Linked DNA regions of Homo sapiens. The protein of the gene in region 1 interacts with the protein of each later gene in a pairwise test. Each region holds a gene or a part of one and is shown in the gene's direction. Other genes may lie near its edges.

Region 1 (6,981 bases):
GGAAGTCAGGTCTTAATCACAAAGAGGGTTTGGGAGGAGAGCCACAGCCAAGCAATGTGGATGATATTTTTTTTTTTTTTGAGACAGAGTTTGCTCTTGTTGCCCAGGCTGGAGTGCAATGGCATGATCTCGGCTCACTGCAACCTCCGCCTCCCGGGTTCAAGCGATTCTCCTGCCTCAGCCTCCTGAGTAGCTGGGATTACAGGCATGTGCCACCATGCCTGGCTAATTTTGTATATATATATATATATATATATTTGATATGGAGTCTTGCTCTTGTCACCCAGGCTGGAGTGCAATGGCACGATCTCGGCTCACTGCAACCTCCGCCTCCCAGGTTCAAGAGATTCTCCTGCCTCAGCCTCTTGAGTAGCTGGGATTACAGGCACCTGCCACCACGCCCAGCTAATTTTTGTATAATTTTGAAACCCCGAGACGGGGTTTCACCATGTTGGCCAGACTGGTCTCGAACTCCTGACCTCGTTATCCACCCGCCTTGGTCTCCCAAAGTGATGGGATTACAGGGGTGAGCCACTGTGCCTGGCCGCAATGTGGATGATTTTAGCAAAAGTCTCAGCTAAGATAGCTTGAGGGACTTCCCCACCCTACAGAGCCTTGCTAATGGCACCGCATCCTCAGAGTCTGTGAGCCACAGACTCTGAAAATAGTCAAGGATTCCCATTGCGTCTCTCTGCCTCTTGGCCCCCAGTTCTCTTTGCTTCCATGGCTTCCTGCCTTCCTTTTGAAGGGACAAGCCCTCTCTTTACCTTGGGCTAATGAATTCAAACAGGTTACATCTTGTGGCCTCCTCAAGTGGCCTTTTGTACATCTATGCTGGAATGGATTAGACACTGGCTTTACAATTGCTTTCATTGGATAATAATAATACCCTAATTATTTAGCTTGTATCTCTACCAAAGGGAACTCCCACTTCCAATTAATCTACGCTTCCTATAAATCATTCTAACAGTGTCTAATGTGAATGAGTGTCCAGCAGTGCTGGGCACTATGCTGAGTACTTCATATAAATTATCTCACTTGATCCTCACCATGCCCTAAGGGGGCATTTACTATCTCACTTTGTACATGAAGAACCTGAGAGTCACGTAGGTGAAGGGCCAGCTCAAGTGGTGAAGACAGAATGTGAACCTAGGAGGTCCCAGTCCAAGACAGCAATCTTAACAACTTGGCAATTTTTTTTTTTTTTTTTTTTTTTTTTTACCATTTAGTGCCTGAGTTCTGAAATCTGGCTTTACAAACACTATGTGTGTGTGACCTGTGGATGATCTGGGCATTATTATATTCTGATTGGTTGAAGTTTCATGGTTCGAATGTCAAATTCTAATGGAGGCATAAGAGTGCAGATTCCATGAGTGCTTTTACAAGAAGTTGATGTTGCTTGGGTTTTATGTTTTATGTTGTATTTAGCACAAAAGCCATTTTAAAAAAGTGTTATAAGGAAATATCTGAAAACATTCAGTCCATAGACCCTGGTGATGAAACGTCCCCCAAACACAATGGCTCACTCAGAACATACTCCTATGGAATAGTTTCCACAAATCAAACTCATACGAATATAGGGAGGATACATAAGAATGCAAAATCAGGCCAAGCCTGCTGGCTCATGCCTATTATAATCCCAGCACTTTGGGAGGCCAAGGCAGGTGAATTGCTTGAGCGCAGGAGTTCAAGACCAGCTTGGGCAACATAGTGAGACCTTCTCTCTACTAATAATAAGAAAGATTAGCTGGGCATAGTGACTCATGCCTGTAGTCCTAGCTACTCAGGAGGCTGAGGTGGGAGGATCACTTGAGTCCCGGGGTTCAAGGCTACAATGAGCTGTGATCACGCCACTGAACTGTAGACAGGGTGACACAGATCTTGTCTCAAAACAACAACAACGGCAACAACAACAACAACGTTCTGAAGCATCACATTAGCCAGGGGTTTCTGAATACTTACTTTGTACCAATGTTACTTTAAGTTCTGCATATATATTACTAGGTTGGTATAAAAGTAATCGTGGTTTTTGCCGTTATGTTTAATACTTTGCACCAACCTAATAGCTCACAGAATAAAAAAAAAAGTCTATGAGGTAGGTACAGTTTTCATCCTTATTTTACAAATGAGAAAAGGAGGCCAAGAATGATAAAGTAACTTGGTCTCACAGCCAGAAAGTGATGGAGCCAAGATTTGAACTTGGGCAGTTGGACTGTGTTCTTAGTCACTGTGCTTCCTGGGTGATTACTGTGACCCTTGTACTTGACACTCTGCTATCAATTACAAGAGCCATTTCTGTGTGTGCACTTGATTTCCTTGGGGTCTCCAGGGAAATGTAATTGTCTCCTCAAGTCCAGGCTTTCCTAGAAGACATGGTGATTGCACTGATAACCAGCATTAGGGCTGGCTTTGGGAAAGCTCAGTACCTATGATTTATGGTTAGTATCTTAGATTTTAGAACGCTGAGCAGGAAGTTTTTGTGCTTTCTGAAATCCTCACACCTTTAAGTCTCATGATTGGTGAGGAGGCAGTGGTCCAAGGGAATGGATAGAAGGAGATAATAAGATAAGCCAAATGTTTCAAAGGGAGTGAAAACTGTTGAATGTAAATGCAGCTCAAGGAAGACTTCCCTATCTGAATAAAAAGGTGCAAATAATGCGGCCTATTTGTATGCATGGTGGCTTAATGATGTTGATGGTGATGATGATAGCTTTACACTATCAGAGCGCTCATTCTGGGCTAGGCAGTTTTCTCAGTGGGGTACAGATATTAATTTATTTACAGTGAGCCAGAGAAGTCTGCTGTAGCTTTTAATGCGTCTAAAATGGGACACATGAACCCCTTAGGAATTTTCAGACTGATCAGGACAGTTTCCTAGAAACAGTTCGTGAAAGGGATGAGATGGGCCCATGGTATCTACCCCTTCCTAGCTGCGTGAACTTGGGCAACTCAACCTTCTTGTGCTGTTTCTCTATGGCTAGTGCGTGTAATTTGTTGTTGTTGTTGTTGTTTGCTTTTGAGACGTTGTCTCACTCAGTTGCCCAGGCTGGAGTGCAGTGGCACGATCTTGGCGCACTGCAACCTCCTTCAAGTTATTCTCCTGCCTCAGCCTCCCAAGCAGCTGGGGTTACAGGCATGCGCCACCATGCCCGGCTCATTTTTGTATTTTCTGTAGAGATGGAGTTTCACCATGTTGGTCAGGCTGGTCTCGAACTCCTGACCTTAGGTGATCCGCCCACCTTGGCCTCCCAAAGTTCTGGGATTACAGGTGTGAGCCACCACTCCCGGCCTAGTATGTGTCATTGACAATTGTTCCTACCTCAAAGGCTGTTATGAGGATTAAATGAGCTAATGCATGTAAAATGCATCTGCATAATATATAACACAGCTCGATAAATGTGAGTTGCTATTGTTGATTATTATGGCCACGTTTGCCGCTGATGATGTTCAACCACTGAAAAGCATCGTTTTCTTTCTTCTAGTAACTGTGTGTACTGAATGCCTCGCGTTTGTCCCTACTGCACTTTTCAGTCTGTCACAATCCTGGGTCGTCGGGGGACTGTACCGAGCGCCCTTGGAGTGCTCGCAGCAGGGAAGAAGGAGCGAGCAGGGAGGAGCTGAGGAGGGTCGGAGCGGAATGGACACCCAGAGACTGAGATGAGAGAGGGGCTATAAGAAGAGAAACCAGTCGCAGGAAAACAGAACTCTCGACAAACGCACGCCCTCTTTGCGCTCTCCGTTTCTCTGGACCTGGATGGAATTGTTTTACTTTGCATCGCCGGACTGCGCTGCGGACGGGGTGGGGCGGCCCAATGGCCCCCCTGGGGTTACTCTGCTCCCCTTCACGCTTCCCTCCCGGCCCCGCCCCGCGATTGGCCGGCGCGCCCCGGGGCTGCCGCCGATTGGTGCTCGCCGGCCGGAGCCGCGGGGCTTAAAGAGGGGGCGGGGGCGCGCTGCCCAGCAGCGCTGCTGTCCCCGCCGTGCGCCCTTCGCCGCTGAGCTCGCAGCCTCCGGCGCCCACCTCCACCTCCAGTGTCCCGCCTCGGGCCGTCGCCCTCCAGCGGCTCGCGAGCGTGGGAGACGTACCTGGGCAGGCACTGTCCAGCCCAGGCCCAGGCACAGCCGTGAGGGGCGAGGCACGGGGACATCCTGGCGGCCACCATGGTGGCCACGTGCCTGCAGGTGGTGGGCTTCGTCACGAGCTTCGTGGGCTGGATCGGGGTCATCGTGACCACCTCCACCAATGACTGGGTGGTGACCTGCGGCTACACCATCCCCACCTGCCGCAAGCTGGATGAGCTGGGCTCCAAGGGGCTGTGGGCCGACTGCGTCATGGCCACGGGGCTGTACCACTGCAAGCCCCTGGTGGACATCCTCATCCTGCCGGGTAAGGACCCGAGCTTGGCGGCGGCTCCCAAATCCTTATCCTCTGGGTAGAGAGCGGGATATTAGACGGCGTCACAGAGACATTTTGGGGGCTTGAAGACCTTTGGGTACGTTTTTGACATCCCTAGTCCCACCTTGTTGTAAAAGAATTAGGCAGCCCCGAACTTAACTTCTCTAGGCCGCAGTATTCTTATCTGGAATTTGAGATAATAGTGGCAATGTGGCCGGTGGTAACACTGGCCGGGTCCCTTTGAGAATGAACAAACCGGAACACCTAATAGGAACTGAGTCCGTGTTAATTACTGCGGTCCCAGCCCGCATCCTTCCACCGTCCGCTTCCCGAAGTGCTTCCCGCTCCCGCCCGGCCTCCCCCGGGGCGCCGAGCCTTCGCGTTAGGTTCCGCCCGCAGAGGTGAGAAGGAGCGTGTAACACAAGCTGACAGGAGAATCGAACCGGCTCAGGCTGAGTTTCTCGGTCCTCATGGGATGGGCGAAGCGCCCCCGGCCAGGTTAGAGCCCTCCTAGCTCCGTCCGCGCAGCCGCTGAGCAATTCACGTCCAGGGCTCTCTGGGCTGCCTGGTTTGGGAAATGTCACGTTGATTCCCGCACGTGCCCAGGGCCATCTCCGCTGCCCCCGCTACCCCCGCCCCTGCTGTGGGCGCGTCAGACTGCGGGGCTGCGGTGACGCCGGCTCCCGCTCCGCGCCGCTGGGTTGGATAGGGACGAGCGGGCGCTCCTCGGAGGGCGGACTCCACTGGGGAGATACGGAGCGCGCCGCCGAGGGTCGCTCGCCGCCACCCCTCCAGCGTGTCTCAGATTGGGAAGGGGAGGTAAAAATTGACAGCCTAGCGCCGGCCAGGGGCCACATTTTCACATGTGTCCTGTGGAAACATTTTGGGCGACAGCCTCAATTCAGATTTAAACCAATGGGTTGGGCAATGGCGAGGTCGCGGGCACCCCCTTGGTTTTCTGCTGGAATCTCTGCTCTACCCCCAAGGCATGTCCCTACAAGGTGGGCTTCTGTCCCCCAGCCTTCGTGGATTGTGCTCACTTAAAGGATTTTCCCGGTTTCCTCAAGATGGGGAGAAACCTGTCCCTGAAGCCGCCAGTCAGATAAGACTGTGCTCGCCCCTTAAGCCTCCTCCAAGCACGCCCTATTTCCGGTCCTCGCAGTCGGAATCTGAATCCCTCCTTTCTCCTTGCTGCCTAGTACTTGGCTCTTATCCTCACAAAGGCACATTTTATCTTGTTTTTTGTTGATTGTTCGTGAGTGAAGTTCTCCCACTACGTTTTAAATTCCTTGAAGATAGAGATGGCGTCCTGTTATTCTCTTTGCTTCCTCTTCTGGACCTGGCATGGCCTCTGGCACACAATAGCTGCGGGCAGTGCTTGCCTGGTTTGCCTTACGCTATCCTTTCCTTCATTTTGAACTTTCAGAAGGCCAGAGGTCAACGAACGCAGATCTAGACTCAGCTTTGGCTAATGCTGGTGTTGGCAGACCCGGGCCAGCCTCCGGCATCCAGGACTCACAATCTGGGTGAGGGGGGACAAATTGCTAGCCTCAGTGAACCACGGTTGTCTTCTTTTAAAAGTTAAAATCAGATCAACCACCCATCTTTCACGATTATTTGAGGATTAAATGAGATAAGAAATGTAATCTCCTTTGAGATAGTAGATGCTTCATGAATGGTACCTATAGTATTTTATTAAAAGCTGGGCATGGTATTTGTAGGGATCTTTGAAGCATAAAATTAACTTTGTTTTCTTCTCCTGAAATTAACTTTACTGAGCATTCAGTGCCAAGTGGTTTGTTTTCAGAGAACAAAGGCTGTCCTCCAGAGGGGAGTGCATACTCTGGGGGTGGGGGGGGGGTGGGGGGCGGCGCTAGTCCTTCCTGCCTTCCCCCTCCCTCATACTTTGGGTGGAGGCAGGAACAGTCCTCTGTCCCTATCTTTTGGTGTCCGGACATGGCCTTGGCACTGTAGCATGTGGACAGCCAGTGCCATGGATTTCAGAACCTGCATTGCCAGTTGACTGCCTGCTTTGTGTGAGTACTGGCTCTCTACAAGCCGCAGAGGCGGACGGCTGGGTCAGGGGATGGGCCTCAGACTTCCTGGAGCTCCTTTCTGGAGATCTTCAAGTCAGTAGACACTTGACTGATTATCTTTAATTCTGAAGGAGCTGAGATGGGCAGTGCTGGAAGAGGGCCCTTGTGAAGTCCGAATTCTGGCAAAACGTTCCTTGCTAAGAGACAGCGTTGAAGTTAGGCCTTTTTGCACGTGAGGGTCGTGGTGTGTGAGGCAGATGTCGGCTAGATTCCTGGCTTTGCTATGAACTCTGCCTCACCCAGGCCACTAGTACTAGTTCCTTCTGAGCAAAAAAGGGAGGGTAATAAATGTGACCCCCCCCACCTTTTTTAAGAGGAGGGAGAGTTTTAATGAGAAACATTACATTTGAAAGTGAAACAAATTTGTCTGTGAAATTCTCCCAGTATCTTGTCAGATTTATTCTAAATAAATGTGACACATATTGTAATCTGTTTCTTAATACAGTTTTTACTTGGCATTTTACTTGACAGGATAAAGTTCATGTAGTT
Region 2 (2,541 bases), on another chromosome or scaffold:
AGTCGATTGGGGCCCTCTGTGAATTTCTTTATACTGTTCTTTCTGGAGTCTCATAAAATCCTGGGTCTGTGTGTAGAGGGGAATCTCATTTAATAGGCCTGGCTCCCTTTGCTTAGACTGGAGATTATTGAATGGGAGATGGATTGCCAGCCTAAGAGAGGGGACAAGTCTCTTACTGCTCACCGTGATCAAACTACTAAAACCTGCATTTAAACCTAGAATTATTTTAACCCCTAAAACTCACCCTTTCCCTCTAGTGCCTGAACAGGAGAACAGATTCCGTTTTTTTTTTCTGACTTCCAGATGTGCAATATGATAGTTAATTGCTAACAGAGGCTACGGTATCCGTTTGCTTCCTCCCTGCTAGGAGTAGCGAGAATATTCCATCATCACGGTTTGCATTGCATTTTGGAGGTTACCATTAACAAGCTCTGAAAAACTGAGCTGACAGCAGTGATAGTAACTGAGTCTCCCACCTCTCAACCCTCAGCTGCCCAAGCAGAGTTCAGAATCTGGGAGATCCTCATCTGAGCATCTGTTTATGTCTGTTTTTGCCTTTTAGAGCCTGTCTACGTCCCCTTTCTCATCGTCGGCTCCATCTTCATTGCGTTCATCATCCTGGGCTCTGTAGTGGCTATTTATTGTTGCACCTGTTTGAGACCCAAGGAGCCCTCGCAGCAGCCAATCCGCTTCTCACTCCGCAGCTATCAGACAGAGACCCTGCCCATGATCCTGACCTCCACCAGCCCCAGGGCACCCTCCCGGCAGTCCAGCACAGCCACGAGCTCCAGCTCCACAGGCGGCTCCATCCGCAGGTTCTCCTTTGCCAGGGCTGAGCCGGGCTGCCTGGTGCCCTCACCGCCCCCGCCATACACCACCAGCCACTCAATCCACCTGGCTCAGCCATCTGGTTTCCTGGTGTCACCCCAGTATTTCGCTTACCCCCTCCAGCAGGAGCCCCCACTGCCTGGGAAGAGCTGTCCAGACTTCAGTTCCAGTTGACACGCCCAGGCCATGAATCCACAACTCAGTCAGATGGCAGACAGGTGGAGCCCTGCTCCCATTGCCACATGCAATTCTGAGAAAATTTCCCTTGTAACTGATCAGTGTCATGGAGGAGCATGCTAGGAAAACACAGCACCTTCTAATTTGAAAGTTCCTGTCTCCAATCACAGAAAGGCTAAACCAGAGAACTGTTTTCTGGTTTTGCAAACATGTGATCATTACATTTCAATCTATGCTACTTTTATTCAAAATATGCAGCAGTTTGACTTTAAAGTTGCAAACTGGCTAAAAACGTTTTACTGGACATTCAGCTATATTGCTTAGAAAAGGGCTACATGTTTCTTTTTCATATAAGTTGTTCATTGAGTTATGATAGGAATATATTCATAAATAAGCAAAGAAAAATACCTAATTGTAATTATCAAAGGTTCACTTAAAAAATTAACTATTAGGTAAACTTAAGGGGGCAGTGAAAAATCTATTTATGATTTCGGGAGTAACCTAACCATGAATAATATTAGCATAATGAGAACATTTACTTTTTAAATAAATAACTAAATTTTGTTTACAATATGAGTTTTTCCAGAATACAAGGTTTCAATAATCACATGAGGAGTTTAAAGTTTTAAATATATACTCAGACATTCATTGTAACACAGAGTGTATGTAAAATCATTTCCCCCACTCACTGGAGGGAGTATTTATTGCAGACTTTTTGTTCAGCAACATTTAGTGTTTCAGTGAAAGTTGGACAGTTGGGGCTTAAAACATTTATTTGTAAAATGAGCTATGTTCAAATGTAAATATTTGTAATTTAATGTATTTACCACATTGACTGTACTAATTATTTAGTAGTCATACTGTAATTTTTATGTTAATAATAACTGGAGTTCAAAGTCTAGCTATTGGTATAATCATCTAATATTATATATATCTCCAGTGCCCCTGAATTTTATGTTTGATGACTATATATTTGGGCATATATCTTGTTGGATTAGAATAAATAAAACACTTTATATTTTCATGAACTCTATTTAAATTTTAATGTGATTCATTTTATCTCTTTAGCGATCCTTCTTTAAAAAAAAGGAAATGTTTTTAACACATACTTCATATTTTAAAATTAAAAAAAAATTCCATATCAGGGCTCGTGAAAGCAGCAAAGGAAGTGAATTTTTATGGAGGTCTCAGTCTACAGCCCTCCGATGTGTTTGGCCTGTAGAGAATTCATCATTAGGACGTTTCTCATAAGAATCTGGATTTCTGGCTTCTCATGACATAGAGGACGTGGCACCAGGGGTCCTGCACTGCCTTGGGGTCAGGTCAATCCTCTTCAGACAGGACACCTGCCATTTGCCAGCCTCCTGCCTGGTCTCCCCACCTGGCCCATCTATTTTTGCTATGCTACCTACCTGGCCCCTGCAGGTGTGGTTTGAAAGCCCAGATTTATAGGAATTCATACTATCATATGTCACTCTCAGTTTTCAAACACAATTAGTTAGAGGCAGAATTCTGTCCTAAGAGAGTTGTTTGGCC

What was found. The genes of interacting proteins can lie anywhere in the genome.
Region 2: the proteins of CLDN11 (region 1) and SHISA3 interact in binary tests that used the Homo sapiens proteins (3 or more experiments, as listed by UniProt).

The regions. Positions count from the first base shown.
Region 1 is NC_000003.12:170,414,906-170,421,886, forward strand, and holds the start of CLDN11 (claudin-11), read left to right. Parts: upstream 1-3,962; 5' UTR 3,963-4,161; coding exon 4,162-4,387; intron 4,388-6,320; exon of another isoform or gene 6,321-6,432; intron 6,433-6,981. UniProt on the Homo sapiens protein: Plays a major role in tight junction-specific obliteration of the intercellular space, through calcium-independent cell-adhesion activity.
Region 2 is NC_000004.12:42,400,450-42,402,990, forward strand, and holds the end of SHISA3 (protein shisa-3 homolog precursor), read left to right. Parts: intron 1-562; coding exon 563-1,002; 3' UTR 1,003-2,038; downstream 2,039-2,541. UniProt on the Homo sapiens protein: Plays an essential role in the maturation of presomitic mesoderm cells by individual attenuation of both FGF and WNT signaling.